Linked DNA regions of Homo sapiens. The protein of the gene in region 3 interacts with the protein of the main gene of each other region in a pairwise test. Each region holds a gene or a part of one and is shown on either strand. Other genes may lie near its edges. The genes, in order: UBE2D4, UBE2L6, RNF25, UBE2E2 and UBE2U.

What was found.
Region 1: the proteins of RNF25 (region 3) and UBE2D4 interact in binary tests that used the Homo sapiens proteins (3 or more experiments, as listed by UniProt).
Region 2: the proteins of RNF25 (region 3) and UBE2L6 interact in a two-hybrid assay, tested with the Homo sapiens proteins (one large-scale study listed by BioGRID and IntAct).
Region 4: the proteins of RNF25 (region 3) and UBE2E2 interact in binary tests that used the Homo sapiens proteins (3 or more experiments, as listed by UniProt).
Region 5: the proteins of RNF25 (region 3) and UBE2U interact in a two-hybrid assay, tested with the Homo sapiens proteins (one large-scale study listed by BioGRID and IntAct).

The regions. Positions count from the first base shown.
Region 1 is NC_000007.14:43,932,922-43,936,442, reverse strand, and holds part of UBE2D4 (ubiquitin-conjugating enzyme E2 D4), read right to left. Parts: intron 1-3,521. UniProt on the Homo sapiens protein: Accepts ubiquitin from the E1 complex and catalyzes its covalent attachment to other proteins. In vitro able to promote polyubiquitination using all 7 ubiquitin Lys residues, but may prefer 'Lys-11' and 'Lys-48'-linked polyubiquitination.
Region 2 is NC_000011.10:57,561,160-57,564,680, reverse strand, and holds part of UBE2L6 (ubiquitin/ISG15-conjugating enzyme E2 L6), read left to right. Parts: intron 1-3,521. UniProt on the Homo sapiens protein: Catalyzes the covalent attachment of ubiquitin or ISG15 to other proteins. Functions in the E6/E6-AP-induced ubiquitination of p53/TP53. Promotes ubiquitination and subsequent proteasomal degradation of FLT3.
Region 3 is NC_000002.12:218,666,180-218,669,005, forward strand, and holds part of RNF25 (E3 ubiquitin-protein ligase RNF25), read right to left. Parts: intron 2,501-2,826; coding exon 2,426-2,500; intron 2,163-2,425; coding exon 2,060-2,162; intron 1,968-2,059; coding exon 1,900-1,967; intron 1,803-1,899; coding exon 1,733-1,802; intron 52-1,732; coding exon 1-51. UniProt on the Homo sapiens protein: E3 ubiquitin-protein ligase that plays a key role in the RNF14-RNF25 translation quality control pathway, a pathway that takes place when a ribosome has stalled during translation, and which promotes ubiquitination and degradation of translation factors on stalled ribosomes.
Region 4 is NC_000003.12:23,531,813-23,535,333, reverse strand, and holds part of UBE2E2 (ubiquitin-conjugating enzyme E2 E2), read right to left. Parts: intron 2,781-3,521; coding exon 2,633-2,780; intron 1,182-2,632; coding exon of another isoform or gene 1,120-1,181; exon of another isoform or gene 1-1,119.
Region 5 is NC_000001.11:64,206,610-64,210,130, forward strand, and holds part of UBE2U (ubiquitin-conjugating enzyme E2 U), read left to right. Parts: intron 1-154; coding exon 155-247; intron 248-3,521. UniProt on the Homo sapiens protein: Catalyzes the covalent attachment of ubiquitin to other proteins.

The DNA.
Region 1 (3,521 bases), on a different chromosome or scaffold from region 3:
TATTACAAGTAACAATGATAAAAGTGAGAAGTTCCGAAAAAGAGAAAGTAAGTTAAAGTATTGAATAGTAGTAGAGAAGAGTTAAGCAAACCATGGTACACACTCAGTTATTCCTTTACGGTGTTTCGTCAACTCCAAGACTCCATCCTTTATAAGACACAATTTTACTTTACATACAATTAGGAAAAAAAAAACATGCTGGCAAATAAACTAACACAAATGCTTTCTTTGCACATAAACTTTAATTGTATTTAAAAATTACTTTTATCAGGCTGTGTACAGTGGTTCATGCCGGTAATCCCAGCACTTTGGGAGGCCGAGGTAGGCAGATCGCCTGATGTCAGGAGTTCGAGACCAGTTTGGCCAACATGGTGAAACCCTGTCTCTACTACAAATACAAAACTTAGCTGGGCTTGGTGGCATGTGCCTATAACCAGCTACTCAGGAGGCTGAGGCACAAGAATCGCTTTAGAGGGTGATGCCATGGGCAGGGCAGAGCATCTGGGGTCTTTTGGGAGCCTCCAATCCCCAACAGTTTCGCAGAACACTGATATCTATGGACTCTAAAATGGGCTTCATTTAAAGAAACCCACAGACCATTAATGGACAAAAACATGAATCTATATGTATTGTGACATTCCAGTCCTGGCACTGTGGGAGAGCATCAAGTACCACGTTTTTGAAGACCATGGCCTATCATCATTATGCGTTCAAGATCTGAGTTTGAATAACCTCATCAAGACTTAGATCTTCTTCAAAAGCTTCAAGTCTCATCTGCATTAAAGCTCTCCATTGAACCCTCTCACAAAAGTGCAAACTTAAAGGGACTAAAATCCGTTAACACATTCCATTTTATATCCCTTCTTCTGACTTCTCTTCAATTTCCTTGGCCTCTGGGGCCCTTTATATTGCTTATGTTCCTTTAGGGCCAAAGTGACAGTGCTTTCCAAAAAAAAAAATATGTATTCTGTGGCCATAAGTTTACAGAGAAGCATAAATTTAGCATGATGAATTTAGAATTAGGTCTTTTATGGTATTCTGTAAAAAGTTGAATTAATAATAAGAAAATGAGGATGAAGCAGTAAAAATATTTTGGGTTAGAATATACTCTCCAAAGCTATGTGGTTTAGAGAAAAGGGCCCCCAACCTAAAAGTTAATAGTTCTTATTCTGTCTCTGCCTTTTACTAGGTAACTGAGAAAGTCACTTAACCTCTCTGAACCTTAACTTCATTATCTATAAAGCGTAACTGATATTTTCCCCTCCCTACCTCACAGGGTTGTTGTGAGGAACAAGTGAAACAATGTACATAAAAAGACATATAAAATGTATAATACAGACAAAGGGTCCTGTTACGTAGTTGGAAGTCATTCCCTCAGATCTTGGGCCTAGGAAGATAGGTGATTTAAGCTCACTGAAAGCATGTACCATGTCCAGGCTGAATACATGGTAACAAGGCTATGTTACATTTTTTTTTTCCCTGAGTTGAGTACCTAAAATACCACATGGGCTAATTCTAAGAAGGAGCACCACTATATATTTCCCTAAAATTATAGCTTAGCATTGTTAATGCTCTAGAGCAGTTATGCATTGTAACATATTAGTGATTTGTGAAAGATTTTTACTAAAACGTGACCAGCATTTTTCTTTAAATGAAAGAATGTAGAATATTTCACAATGCATCCCATGTGATGAGAAAAAATATTTTTTTTAGTTATATGTACATATGCATGTGTGTGAATGTGTGTGTGTACTTGGTCATTAAATAAAATGTACTTTTTCTTCTTGTGGGAAAAAAAAAAAAGAATTGCTTTAGCCCGGGAGGTGGAGGTTGCAGTGAGCCAAGACTGCGCCTGTGTGACAGAGTGAGATTCTGTTTCAAAAAATTAAAAAATTAAAATTACTTTTATCAAAAGAATTATTTTAGGCTTAAACATAGCTTTGTGTGTTTCTTGTTAAGTATCATTCATGAATACAAAAAAAAAAAAAAGGAAAAACAAGTGAAATAAATAAACTGGTTTGTTCAGGTATTCCTAAAGTTTCTTCCCATTCAGAGCCCAACACTGAGTCATTGATGTCTACACAATATCATCCTCTGTGTCTTCCAAAACAATGGTAATGTGGCAATTCTTAGAGTCCTCTACTACTCTTCCTGGAGTTTTCTTTCAAGCCATGAATACTTATTCTGCAAAGGCCCATGATACACAATCTATTTGCACGTATTCCAGAAAAAAAAAAATGACCCAGTCTCACCAACTTGAGGGTAGGTGGTACCTTCCTTTCTGTGGCTATGAAGAATTTGGTTGCTTGACATGGAATTAGGAAATTCCAGTCCTTCCTCCAACAACAAATATTTGCTCCCTTATTATGAAATTTACTCGTCGTTGTCCTGTTTCTGTGCCTGTGTTCACAAAAGCTTTTCTTTTCAGTGCTAAATCACACTATCTTTTTGAAAATATTTTTAAAACAATTAAACTCAACAAATATAGTACCAGCAATGCACTTACCTCATAATGAACTGCCATGATGGTTTACTCATACAGATAGTGACATCTAAGTGAAGGTAACCTGGCTGACAGCTATTGTAAGAAGCATCCCAATTTCAGAGACGTGAACATTTGAAAAAATATTCATCTTGAAGTAGATGAATATGGTATTATCTTATTTCCAAGTTCTCTTTATTTTTTATTTTTATTTTTAGAGACAGGGTCTCACTGTGTTGCCCAGACTGGAGTACACTGGCACCATCTCGGCTCACTGCAACCTCTGCCTACTGGGTTCAAGCAATTCTGGTGTCTCACCCTCCAGAGTAGCTGGGACTGATTACAGGAACGCACCACCATGCCCAGCTAATTTTTGTATTTGTAGTAGAGATGAGTTTCACCATGTTGGCCAGGCTGGTCTCAAACTCCTGACCTCAAGCGATCCTCCTGCCTCAGCCTCCCAAAGTGCTGGGATTACAGGCCTGAGCCACCACGCCCAGCCCCAAGTTTCTTTAAAGAACAATTACTACCTTTATAATCAGAAGTTAACTAAACTTTTTTTTGAGAAACTAAACCAAGTATTATGCAGCCACTGAAAATTAGTTTTTAAAGACTACAGAATAACAGGAGAAAATGTCATGATACAACATTAGAGGAAAAGGGCAAGAAAAAAGCAGAGTATAAAATTTGATGCACTACATGACAACAATCTGAAACACATACACATCAAAGGCACTGAAAAGAAATCCACAAAAATGTTAACTACAATTACATGAATAGGTAGAATATATATATATATACACCCACACATATATATGTACGTATATGTATATACACACATATAAGTATATATGTTATATATATACACACATACATATGTGTATATATATGTGTGTATATATGTTATATATATACACACATACATATGTGTATATATATGTGTGTGTATATATATATATATATATATATATATATACTTTAACATTTGTTGCCCCCAGGAGGGGAACTGGATGGCACACATTCCAGCAAGAAAAAGTGA
Region 2 (3,521 bases), on a different chromosome or scaffold from region 3:
CAGGCACCCGCCACCACGCCCAGCTAATTTTTGTATTTTTAGTAGAGATGTGGTTTCACCATGTTAGCCAGGCTGGTCTCGAACTCCTGACCTCAGGTGATCCACCGGCTTTGGCCTCCCACAGTGCTGGGATTACAGGCGTGAGCCACCATGCCCAGCCCAGATGATTTTTTATTGCTCATTAAAATTTTTTTAAATTTCTGATTGAAGAACTCCTTTTTAGCATTTCTTGTAGGACAGGTCTGGTGTCGATGGTATCTCTCAGCTTTTGTTTGTCTGGGAAAGTCTTTATTTCTCCTTCATGTTTGAAGGATATTTTCACTGGATATACTATTCTAGGGTAAAAGATTTTTTCCCTCAGCCGTATTTCATTTAAATATGTCATGCCACTCTCTCTTGGCCTGTAAGATTTCCACTGAAAAGTCGCTGCTGGACATATTGGAGCTCCATTGTATGTTATGTGTTTATTTTCTCTTGCTGCTGTTAGGACCCTTTCTTTAATCCCTGACATCTGGGAGATTGATTATTAAATGCCTTGAGGTAGTCTTCTTTGGGTTAAGTCTGCTTGGTGTTCTATAACCTTCTCATGTTTGGATATTGATATCTTTCTCTAGATTTGGGAAATTCTCTGCTACTATCCGTTTGAATAAACTTTCTAGCCCTGTCTCTCTCCCTACCTCCTATTTAAGGCCAGTAACTCTTAGATTTGCCCTTTTGAGGCCATTGTCTAGATCCTGTAGGCATACTTCATTCTTTGTTTATTCTTTTTTTTTATTTTTGAGACGGAGTCTCGCTCTGTTGCCCAGGATGGAGTGCAGTGGCACAATCTTGGCTCACTGCAAGCTCTGCCTCCTGGGTTCATACCATTCTCCTGCCTCAACCTCCTGAGTAGCTGGGACTACAGGCGCCCACCACCACGCCCGGCTAATTTTTTTTTTTTTTTTTGTATTTTTAGTAGAGATGAGGTTTCACCGTGTTAGCCAGGATGGTCTCGATCTCCTGATCTCGTGATCCACCTGCCTCGGCCTCCCAAAGTCTTTGTTTATTCTTTTATTATTTTGCTTCATCTGACTGTATTTTCAAATACCCTGTCTTTAAACACTCTAGTTCTTCTGCTTGATCAATTCTGCTGTTAAAAGACTGATGCGTTTCAGTATGTTAATTGCATTTTTTTCTTTCTTTCTTTTTTTTTTTTTTTTGAGACAGAGTTCCACTCTTGTTGCCCAGGCTGGAGTGCAATGGCATGCTCTCGGCTCACTGCAACCTCTGCCTCTCCAATTCTCCTGCCTGAGCCTCCCAAGTAGCTGGGATTACAGGCCTGCACCACCATGCCCAGCTAATTTTTGTATTTTTAGTAGAAACAGGGCCTCACCACGTTGGCCAGGCTGGTCTTGCACTCCTAACCTCAGGTGATCTGACTGCCTCGGCCTCCCAAAGTGCTGGGATTACAGGCATGAGCCACTGCACCCGGCCTCAATTGCATTTTTCGACTCCGGAATTTCTCCTTGATTCTTTTTAATTATTTCAATTTATTTGTTAAATTTGTTGATGGGATTCTGAATTCCTTCTCTGTGGAGGAAATATTGAATTTCTTTGAGTTTCCTCAAAACAGCTATTTTGATTTCTCTGTCTGAAAGGTCACATATCTCTGTTTCTCTGGAATTGGCCCTGTGTGCCTTATTTAGTTCGTTTGGTGAGGCTGTGTTTTCCTGGATCGTCTTGAAGCTTGTGGATGTTTGTTGGTGTCTGGGCACTAAGGAGTTAGGTATTTATTATAGTCTTTGTAGTCTGGGCTTGTTTGTACTCATCCTTCTTGGGAAGGCTTTCGAGGTATTGGAAGGGGCTTGGCTGTTGTGATCTAAGTTTTGGTCACTGCAGCCATGTCTACATAAGGGGGCACTCCAAGCCTAGTAACACTGTAGTTCTTGCAGACTTTTAGAGGTTACTACCTTTGTGGTTTTGGATAACATCAGGAAGAATTCTCTGGATTACCAGGTAGAGACTCTCATTTTCTTCCCTTACTTTCTCCCAAACAAATGGAGTCTTACTCTCCGTGCTGAGCTCCCTGGAGCTGGGTGAGGTGTGACACAAGCATCCCCATGGTCACCAGAATTGGGACTGCACTGGGTCAGGCCTGAAGCCAGCACAAGACTGGGTTTTGCTCAAGGCCCGCTGTAATCACTACCTGGCTATGCCCTACGTTCGCTCAAGGCCCTAGGGCTCTGCAATCAGCAGGTGGTGAAGCCAGCCAGGCTTGTGTTCTTCCCCTTAGGGTGGTTAGTTCACTGCTGGGCCCCAGAGAGGTCCACAGTTGCTGTCCATGGGCCAGGGCCTGGAGTCGGAAACCTTAGAAATCTCTCTAGTGCTCTGTGCTACTGCAGCTAAGCTGGCACTGAAACCACAGGACACAGTCCTTCCCACTCTTCCCTCCCTTTTCCCCAGATATAGGAGTCTCTCCCCTTGTCCACCACCACCACGGGTCTATGAGGAGTACTGCCAGGGTACTACTGCTGATGTTCGCCTAAGGCCCAAAGGCCCTTCAGTCAGCTTGTGGTGAATGTGACCAGGCCTGAGACTCACCCTGCAGGGCAGCGGTCTCCCCTCTTGTTCGGCCAGATAATTCTTTGTTAGGATGTTTATCAGCATCTCTGGCCTCTATCCACTCTCCCGATTTATGACAACGGAACAATGTTCCCAGATATTACCGAATGTCCCTGGCTGGGTAAAATCGCCCCTGGTTGAGAACCACTGGTTTGTACCAATTCATTGTTCCAGAGAAATGTGACCTGCCCTTGAGTGTCTTTATCTTCCCCAACAAGAAAAGGCCTGTAGTCCCACAAGATGGACTCTAAAAGAGGGGCAGCATTCCTTTGTCAAATACATTTGAGAAGTACTGCATGCTGTGGGCCCACAGCTTGGTCAATCACCATACACAATAGCATATTAAAGGCTGTGGGAAGTTCTCCAGTGAAGAAACCTCTTTAGCCGAGATTTACCAAATGTACTTGACCTTGGAACCCTTTTCCTGTACTACCTATTAACCTTCTGCAGGACATACTGTACTTATGTTTCCCATCTGGGCCCTCTGCCCTGGTGCTTCTCCCCTTCTCTGCTTTATGGATTCCTGTTCATTCTGCATGGCCCAGCTCACAGAGTGCACCCTCTGTGAAACCTTCCTTCTCCCCTCTCATCTCCTTCCTTACCGTATATCCATACACATTCACATAATCACATCCATGTTTCGTCCATTACTCTATTGAAATTCTTGAGGACTGGGTCCTGTCTCAGTTAAATGTCAGTAGAAGATGCTCAGTAATGGCTGTTGGGAGAATTCAGAAGGGATATTCAGGTGTTTGGGCCACAGTTTTGGGAAGATGAGTCACTCCTTGCCCCCTTGTTTCCCCACTTGGTGTGTAGAGTTCTTCTCTGCTATGGTCTTCCGGAGTCATTTCCCTTCTCCAGCCCTGATCTGGCAGAGTTTGAAGCGGTGGGGTCATGTCTTTGCTGCAGATGCTCAGTCG
Region 3 (2,826 bases):
GACACACTGGCCATGAGGGATGTTGTTATCTGTGAGAATTTCCTTCCCTTTCTGAGGAGAGAAGACACTGATTAAACGGGGGTAGGGGGAAGAACGGTGAGCAAGGCCTGTCTACTACTCCTAGGAGTGACTGGCTAGACTTGGCTCCTAGCAGGCCAGTTTGTTACCTTGTGTTTATGCATTTCTGGCTTGGTGACGCTCCCTCTGCTGGGAATCAATCCTTCTCCACATCTCTGCCCCTCCCCCAAAATTTGATCTTCCTGGTTTCAAAATTCAACCTAATTGTTTTTCCTTTCATTAAGTCACTTTTAATATATCTTGGAGATGAAAATAATACACCTTGAGAAAAAAAATGTTCAATTAAAATTTATCTTCTGGGAGGCCTTTCTTGATTAGCCCCCTTCAATATCACTCCCCCATGGGGCAATGTGTTTGTTCTAAGTCAGCTTTCAGAAAGCATGACAAGGCATGGACAACCCAAATGGACAGAGAATTCACAAGGCATTGAGTTGGGCTGTGAACTATGCATTTGAATTGTTATTTGAATAGCTAATAGTGTACTCTGGAATTCCACAAAGTCCAAGGCTGCATTGTGGAGGCCTGACCTAGGACTGCTACGGTGGCCTATCAAACCCACTCTCTTTGACTCTCAGCCACCCACCTTCATTCTATTCTGAACATTTTTCTTAAAAATTTAAACTAAGAGAGGCTGGGCGTGGTGGCTCATGCCTATAATCCCAGCACTTTGGGAGGCTGAGGCAGGTGGATAACCTGAGGTCAGGAGTTCAAGACCAGCCTGGCCAACATGGAGAAACCCCATCTCTACTAAAAATATAAAATTAGCTGGGTGTGGTGGCACATGCCTGTGATCCTAGCTATCTGGGAGGCTGAGGCAGGAGAATCACTTGAACCTGGGAGGCGGAGGTTGCAGTGAGCTGAGATCACACCACTGCACTCCAGCCTGGGTGACAGACTAAGACTGTCTCAAAAAAAAAAAAAAAATTAAAATTAATAAATAAACAAACTAGGGGAAAATAAAACTGTACTTAATTTTATATTTTTAATCTCAAACAATAAAAGTTTTCTGTGTATATTGGAGCTTCAGGTGTTGCTTCATGTGGGTTGTTTCATCAAGCAGTGTATAAGCTCTTTCAGTAAAGGAACCATGACTTTTTCTTTTTTTTTTTTTTGAGATGGAGTCTCACTCTGTTGCCCAGGCTGGAGTGCAGTGCATGATCTTGGCTCCCTGCAATCTCCGCCTCCCGGGTTCAAGCGATTCTCCTTCCTCAGCCTCCCAAGTAACTGGGATTACAAATGCCCGCCACCGTGCCTGGCCAACCATGACTTTTTCTAGTCAGGTCCAATGGCAGTCTAGCCTTCAAATGTTCATTTATGGCTAAGACGCCCCCAAGCAAGATGCGTATCTTTTGCCACTTTCAGTTGCCAGTGCCAAGAGAACAAGACATATACTGAAACTGATGCAAGAAAAATTCAAGGTGAAGAGGAAAAGTCATTTTCTGTCAAGATGCTGGCATAGGCAACTTGGAGAAGCTACTGAACTGTCTTTTGGGAAGTTTTTCAAATAGAAGAGTCTCATTTCTCTGGATTAATTTAGGCCTTACCTAATGACTCCAGATCCGTTTAAGATTCTAGGCCCATGGTTTCCCTTTTACAGCTAGAAACTGCTCTAGCTTGAAGGAAAGAACATATCTCAGACTAGCGCACCTCTTACCTCAATGAGTTCATACAGCATGGCAGTGCCCAGCCCAGCCTTGGCCACGTGGCCCAGCACCTGTAAGATCCTGGAGGAAGAGGGCAAACCAAATATTAGACCTGCCCATTTCTGTCACCGGGCAAAGCTGTAGCTGAGTTTTCCCTGTTCTGACAGGTTCAACTTACGTGTGGATCTGTTCATCTGAAAGTCCTCGGGGATTTCGGATAGAGATCTGTGGCACCTCATGGGGATACTAGTGGGGGCAAATAACAAGTTACTGCTGAAGCGGTCCACCCCAGGGACTCTCCCCTTCCTCCCTTTGCTGCCACACAGTAGGGGCTTCACCTCTGCTGGGACCTGAAGCACCAGAGTGAAGCAGACATACTGTGAATCCTGGTCCTCTGCAGTGGCAGGATGCAAAGTGATGTAGATCTCCCATGGTGAAGTTCTGCAGGTGGATCAAGTGGACACGCAGATGTGACTGGGTAGGGGCTTGGGGGCTGGGGAGGATGGGGCTGAGACAGTGAAGTGGGCAAAGGAAGTACACATTGGACTCTTTCTTTTGGGGTAGGATTAAAGGAATAGCTTTTGTCTACACAAGAGAAATATTATCTCTGAATCAAGGCTCACAATGTCTTAAGACCCAAATTCAGCATAGAACCTCTCCTCATTACTAGGGGGACTCCTGCCCACCACTGGTTGAATACATACCTGCCATTTCCTTTAATCACCTGTAGTTCATCTAGATAGATGGACTCCAATACTTCAACTTCAGAGGGAAGGACCCTAGAGAGACAGGAGTAGACTAACTTACCATTACAGCTCTCCCTGTGGAAGCCTGCTAAGGCCAATAAAGGCAGGCTTTGTAGAAAAATGGCAATCTACCAGAATGCATTCTCCTGCTAAACTCCTTAAAAACAAGGAATATGTTACCTTAAGTTGTCAACTGGCCAAATAGAAGGCATGGAAATCAGAATTTTAGGCATCATTTCTGCCAACAGATGAAGAAGTGGATTCTAGAGAAGTAAAATGACTAACCAAGGCTTAACATAGGTAGAACTAGGCCCAGAGCCAGGTTTCCTGACTCCCTGTTTAAGTTTCATTCCCCTTAG
Region 4 (3,521 bases), on a different chromosome or scaffold from region 3:
TCACCTATTGTGGGCCCATTTGGTGTCCCAAATACTCTGGGTAACAATATCAACAACACATTACCATTTATAAATGGCTTTCACATATACCATCTCATTTTAACCTCAGAGGAATCCAGTGATTTAGGCAGGGCTGGTACTAATCCCAATTTTATATCAAAAACTAAGCCTGTGGAAAGTTAAGTGACCCATCCAATGTGATATGACTAATAAACAATTAAACTGGTTTTCAAATCTACATCTGCTGTCTACAAATATCATGCTGATAAGGATGGGTAGTCATACCCTAAAGAACATCTGTGTTGGAATGGACCAAAAATTCTTTAAAGAGACAAGTGCAAATTACAAAAAGAGTATGAAAAAGATTTAGAAAATAAGTTTATGTATGGATAAGAGTGAGAAAGTATTTTTTAAGTGAGTTAAATTTGTATCATTATACAAGGCCTATTTTTGAGGTGACAGCATTTCCGGGTTAAAATAGCTCTACAGATTCAGTGTAGGAAAATCTTATTTATTCCTATTCTATCAAACTTGTTTTTGTGATAATTTGAAGATAGATTTAAGATAAACTTCAATCTAACCTAATCTTTCCTACCTCTGTAGGTAAAAAAACCTACAGAGATTGAAAGTGTACCAGATAACAGTGTGAAATAAGTCCATTAAGCAAAAGAATGGACATTTGACTACTTTAAAATAAACAACTCTATTTAAGATTCTAGAAGTGTCAACATTCATAAAAACCAATTAGGAAACTTTATTTTTATGTGTTAAAAAGTGTGATAAACTAAATGTTAGCATGTATTTTACAAATTCTCTTCTAGTCTCATATGAGGCAGGCTGTCTTTGGTTTTATGGAACATTATTTTTAGGCTTGTTCTTACTATCAATAGCATTATTTCAAAATCTATTTCTTTTACTTATGTGGTTCTGCTTTAGTTAGGAGTGATTTTTAAGTTTTTGCAGAATGCATTTGTAATTTTCTGAAACGGAGCAAAAAAAAAAAACTAGTTCACTGAACAGAAGTCTTTTTGATTGCTGAGAGAAGGCTTTGGTGGAATGAATCTATTCCTTTAAGCAGGAATATCTGTAGAGAGAACAGGCTGTCATATACAGGCTTATTCAGGGTAACAGATTCCATTTCAGCTGACTTGGAGGCAAAGCAGGCCAGGCTTCGAAATCACCTCAAAAAAAAAAAAAAAAAAAAAGCCTTCTTGCAACATTACCTCCAAATGAGGTTATACAAGGTTATACACAGTCACAGACAAATGGGATTAAAATGGGAACAACAGGACTGAAAGAACAAAATTAACTTTAAATTAGTATAACATTATTGGACTTTACTGTCTGTAGTAAAGTATGAATTAATTCAAAAAATATTTTATAATGATCCTGCACAATTTTATTTTTTGGGCAGGCTGGGTACAGTGGCTCATGCCTGTAATCCCAGCACTTTGGGGGGCCAAAGCGGGCGGATCACAAGGTCAGGAGTTCGAGACCTGGCTGGCCAACACGGTGAAACCCCGTCTCTACTAAAAGTACAAAAATAAGCTGGGCTTGGCGGCACACGGCTGTAATCCCAGCTACTTGGGGGGCTAAGATAGGAGAATCGCTTGAATCCAGGAGGCGGAGGTTGCGGGAGCCAAGATCGTGCCACTGCACTCCAGCCTGGGTGACACAGTGAGACTCAGTTTCAAAAAAAAAAAAAAAAAAAAAATACTAATTTGCTACTTTAAAAAAGATTTTACTGCTGAAAAATAAAGAAATATAAAAGTAGAAAGACTGTTATTTCTTGATGTTTTATAAAACAGCCAGGATCCTAAGCAACCCCACTGATACTCGTCATTTCCATTTGTGTAAAATTTCATGTATCCAGTGAACAGAGTTTACTCATGATTGTAGAAGAGGGAATCTCATGCAATATTTAAGCTATTAATTACTCATAAAATAATTCTCCCACTGAGAACATCAATGAAAACCCTATAGCTATCTTTGGATTTTTGTATTTTCTAAAATAAACCCAATTTGTAAAGACATGGCCCAGGAATTAAGAATTTTCAGTGGTAAGCACACCAGCAAGCCATAAAGGCCTGGCTATAGACTTTTTCGTTTTCTTGGGAGGTGTATTTCCTTGTTTACTTTTGGGGTATTTCCTAGAACAGACCATTCAGGACCGTTATAATAGCTTGTCAGGATGCACAGTTACTAGGATGCCAAAAAGGTCACGTCTGCATGGTGCTGCCTGGTTGTTATCAGATTTTAATAGCCCACATTCCTCAAATTAACATCTTCTAGTAGGCATCTAATTAAAGATTAAGCTATTCAACTTGAATTTTTATTATTATTTGGCAGGATAACTTAATTCATTCTTTAAACGTACTTTCCCATCTAAAATGATTTTTCATTATTTTTTTTACCACACTATACTTTTTCCTTTTTGGCAAATGATAGGTCTTAAAAACACTAATGAGAAGACCCAATTTAAAAAGAAAATAGTTACATACTATGAAAATTTAACAATAATAGTAGTAGAAGCAGTGGTGGTAGTGGTAGTAGCAGTAGTAAACAAGTTACTAAGGGTCTGACATTTAAATCTTGACAAGCTCCAATTCATACTAGATTTAAAGTCTCTTACCAGGGTTGCAATCTGTAAGAAGTGAGCAGATGGAGAGGAGAACTTTAGAAATAGTTAAAGCCGGACTCCAGTTGTCCTTTAAGATGTCCAGACAGATCACACCTTGGCTGTTAATATTACAGTGATAGATTCTTGTTCGGAAGGTAACCTACAAGAAAATGTAAAGTTATATTTTGTTAGACAAAGTGTTTATTAACAGTATCTATAGACAATTTTTGTCTAATAAAATTGCCTATTTTATCAGACAAAATAGCCCAGGCTATTGGTTAACATACACTTGATTTTTTTCTTGGGCACATGAGATTAATCAACAGAGATCATCATTTTAGAATTTGTCATTTTGGGCACAGAGAAATAAACATCAACAGCAAAACCATGACATTCTGCTTCTTATAAAGAGTCCTGTTATTTAACAAATGTTTTAGGGACTGAATTTACTTTTGATACAACTACAGGAATGTTCATGGGGAGAAACTGACTCTGACTTCTAAAAAATTTCAAAGAAAACTTTTGTTAGATTCCAGTTATTTTAAGGATTTTGTACATTTATAATATTCAAACACCAAAAAGCATGAGAGTACTAATACAAAGAAAATAAATATTATTCTATAACAGTTTTTTTTTCTTTTTTTTTTTTTTTGAGATAGAGTTTCGCTCTGTTGCCCAGGCTGGAGTGCAGTGGCGTGATCTTTGCTCACTGCAACCTCCACCTCCCGGGTTCAAGCGATTGTCCTGCCTCAGCCTCCCAAGTAGCTGGGATTAGAGGTGCCCGCCACCACACCCAGCTAATTTTTGTATTTTTAGTAGAGACAGGGTTTTGCCATGTTGGCCAGGCTGGTCTTGAACTCCTGACCTCAAGTCATCCGCCTGCCTTGGCCTCCCAAAGTGC
Region 5 (3,521 bases), on a different chromosome or scaffold from region 3:
CTATCCAGAGGAGTCGGTGCACTCTATGAATCAATTTACTTAAAAATAAAACTGTGGAAAGACTAAACCATAGGGAGAAACTCCAGTGTTAATCAGGTTACAGTTAATCAATAAACATGACACTTTAGTAAAAATGTTTATTTCTATATTATAGGTTTAGTCTTCCAACTGACAATACATTTTACATCGGAGTACAACTATGCTCCTCCAGTTGTGAAATTTATAACAATTCCGTTTCATCCAAATGGTAAGAACTAAATGACATTTTTATCATTAGAGGCTTTGTCCCTATTATCCTTGTTTCTTATAATAATCATGTTTCTTTTTAAGAACTTTATTATGATTCTAAAAGTAAGAACTCTCATTGGGGAAAATATGAAAAGGCTGGAAAAAATTAGCAATCACCTTAAATCCTAATGCAAAGAGAAAATACTGTCAACATTTTGCCAAATTTATTTTCCTTTTTTCTAAGTATGAATTTTTTCTATACAGTTGAGGTATTATGCATGAAGTTTTGCCTCTAGGTTTTTGATTTTATTTATTTTATGGTGTTTTTTTTGAGACAGAGTCTCTCTCTGTCGCCCAGGCTGGAATGCAGTGGTGTGATCTCGGCTCACTGCAACCTTCACCTCCCAGGTTCAATCGATTCTCCTGCCTCAGCCTCCCCAGTAGCTGGGACTACAGGCATGCGCCACCACACCTGGCTAGTTTTTGTATTTTTAGCAGAGATGGGGTTTCACCATGTTGGCCAAGCTGGTCTTGAACTCCTGACCATCCGCCCACTTTGGCCTCCCAAAATGCTGGGATTACAGCTGTGAACCACTGCGCCTGGCCTAGGTTTTTAATTTTAAAACTATATGTCTTTTTTCTGCATTATTAAACAGTCTTCAAAAGATCATCTTAAATGGTTCAACAATACACTTAACCATTTCTGTATTGTTCAATATTTTAGTTGGATCTAATTTTTCATTATTATAAAAAAACGATGCACTGGACAGATTAACTTTTTTTAAATAAAAGGTAAGTTAGATTGCTACTTAAAGTTATACACAAAACCAATTCCTGAAGGATCAAAAATCTAAAAATTTTAAATGCTGGAAAAGAAGGAAATCTAATAGAATTTTTATGGGCTTGGTGAGGAAGACGTTTCTCAGCATGATAAAACCCAGTAACTGTATGGAAAATATGACACATTAAACTGCAAAACCTGTTAAAACTTCTCTACGGCCCAGGACATTATACTCAGAGGTCAAAGACACTGACTTTTGCAAACTGAGGGAAAATATTTGCAATGCATGTAACAGAATATGTATACCATATGAAGAACACTTGTCAATCAATATAAAAAGAACATAAAGCAATTAAAAAATGGAGAAAGGCTATAAACAAACACTGGACAGAATAAACAACAAAAATAAACATAAAAAGATTATCAATCTCACTACTAAGAAAATAAAAGCAAATTAAAACAAAAAGTATTGTTATTTATCACATATTCATAAAATGTCAAAATATAACATACATATTTAGTAGGCATGGGCAGACATTGTTCCTCTGATATAATCATGACCTTTTGAGGAAGTAGTGTGACAGTTTCTAATCAGGTATAAAATGCATATATCCCTAAATTCCCGTAATACCATGTTTATAAACTATTCTGTAGAAATATTAGCACAAGTGTGCAAGAGTGTGTTATATTTAAAGACGTTTATTCCCACCAGGCTCAGTGGCTTATGCCTGTTATCCCAGTACTTTGGGTGGTCAGTGGGGAGTATTGCTTGGGTCCAGGAGTTTGACACCAGCCTGGGCAACATAGTGAGACCTGTCTCTACAGAAAATAAAAAAATTAGCTTGGCATGGTAGCATGTGCCTGTAGTCCCAGCTACTTCAGGTCTGAGGTAGGAGGATTGCTTGAGCCCAGGAGGTCGAGGCTGCAGTGAGCCATGATTGTGCCATTGCACTCCAGCCTGGGCAACAGAACAAGACGCTGTCTCAAAAAAAAAAAAAAAAAAAAAAAAAAAAAAAAAAAAAAAAAAAGATGTTTATTCCCAACAGCAATGTTAGAAATAGGAAAAATGGAAATAACTTCAATCTCCATTAACACAGGAATTTTAAGTGAAATATCCTACAGTTACGTGTATTGCTTCTAAACAGAACGAGGAAGGTCTACGAACCTTTTAGGTCTAGATCATTGCTATATCCTTAGAATCTTCACTGCGTGGCATATAGTAGGTATTCAGATATTTTTTGAATAAATATTTGTGTCCAGAAATATGTTGAAAATACATTGTTAAGTGAAAAAATACATTGAACAATAAAATGTAAAATATATTCCCATTTAATAAACACACACATATGGGTGTGTATACATATATGTGTTTGTGTGTATATTTGTATAGACCAACTGGTAATATTGGTCTTGAATAGTAGAATTAGTAGGCAGGGGAACATTCATATTTTACATTAGATTTTTTATGTTTTTTTCCCAAGTACATTATTTTATTGTAATTAAAACCTATTTTTGGTATCTATAACACAAAATTAATTACATACGTGTGCCTTTATTTGTTTAAAATAGTTAGAATTATTGGATTAAATTCAATGGGGGGAGGTACTCTTATCCCCTAGTCCTCATCCCTCCCACTTCCATAAAGTAGAGGGAACTTTAGTCTCTAGGAGGGGGAAGGTATAGGAAAACTTGTGACTGCTCTTTTTTTTTCCCCCATCACTCCTCCTAGAAGTCACTTATCTGATTAGGGAGATGAAGGAAAGAATTGAGCATATGTGGCCCAGAACTTGCTCAACACTCTCTCCTTCTGACCATACTGGGTATAGTCTCTTTTGCTCCAGGCAGGAAACTTAGGCAGGCCTTCGGTTTGGGAGTTAAGTTTAAATCAGGGGGACTTTTGTGGAGCCTGATTAAAGCCATTCATCAAGTGCGTTCTCCATTTCAGTCTTATGTGCAATGAAGCTGATGTTTTTACTTCCACCTTTCAATACTTTGATCTATTTTATAATTACATATGAACTTGAGGGGAGAGAAGGGTTATTTACTAGCTTTCAACCCCCGCCCCCGCCCGCCCCGCAAAAGATGGCTATGTACAGTTTTAAGTCTTTATATAAAAAGCCAAATTGCCTTTCGGTGGTATTTGTACTCCTACCAAAAAGTACATATAAAGTTCTTATTTTAGCACCTTCCAATTCTGGCCATTGAAACTTTGAAGAAAATTTTTTTGCCAATTTGGTAAGAGTCTTGCTATTATTTTAATAAGCACTTCTTTGAATACTTGAGAAGTAAACATTTCCCACCTTTGTTGATTCTTATTTTGTGACTCGTATGATACAATTGACAGTGCTATCACATTGTCCTAGATGTTGCAAATATTTCCTCTAATTTGTCATTAATTTTCAACTTTGTTTATGCTGTTTTTTCACATCTGGGATTTAGAGATTTTTATGATTTAAAATAAATTTATATTTAAGATCTATTAATCTTGTCCTTTGAGGCTTTTGCAGTTGTC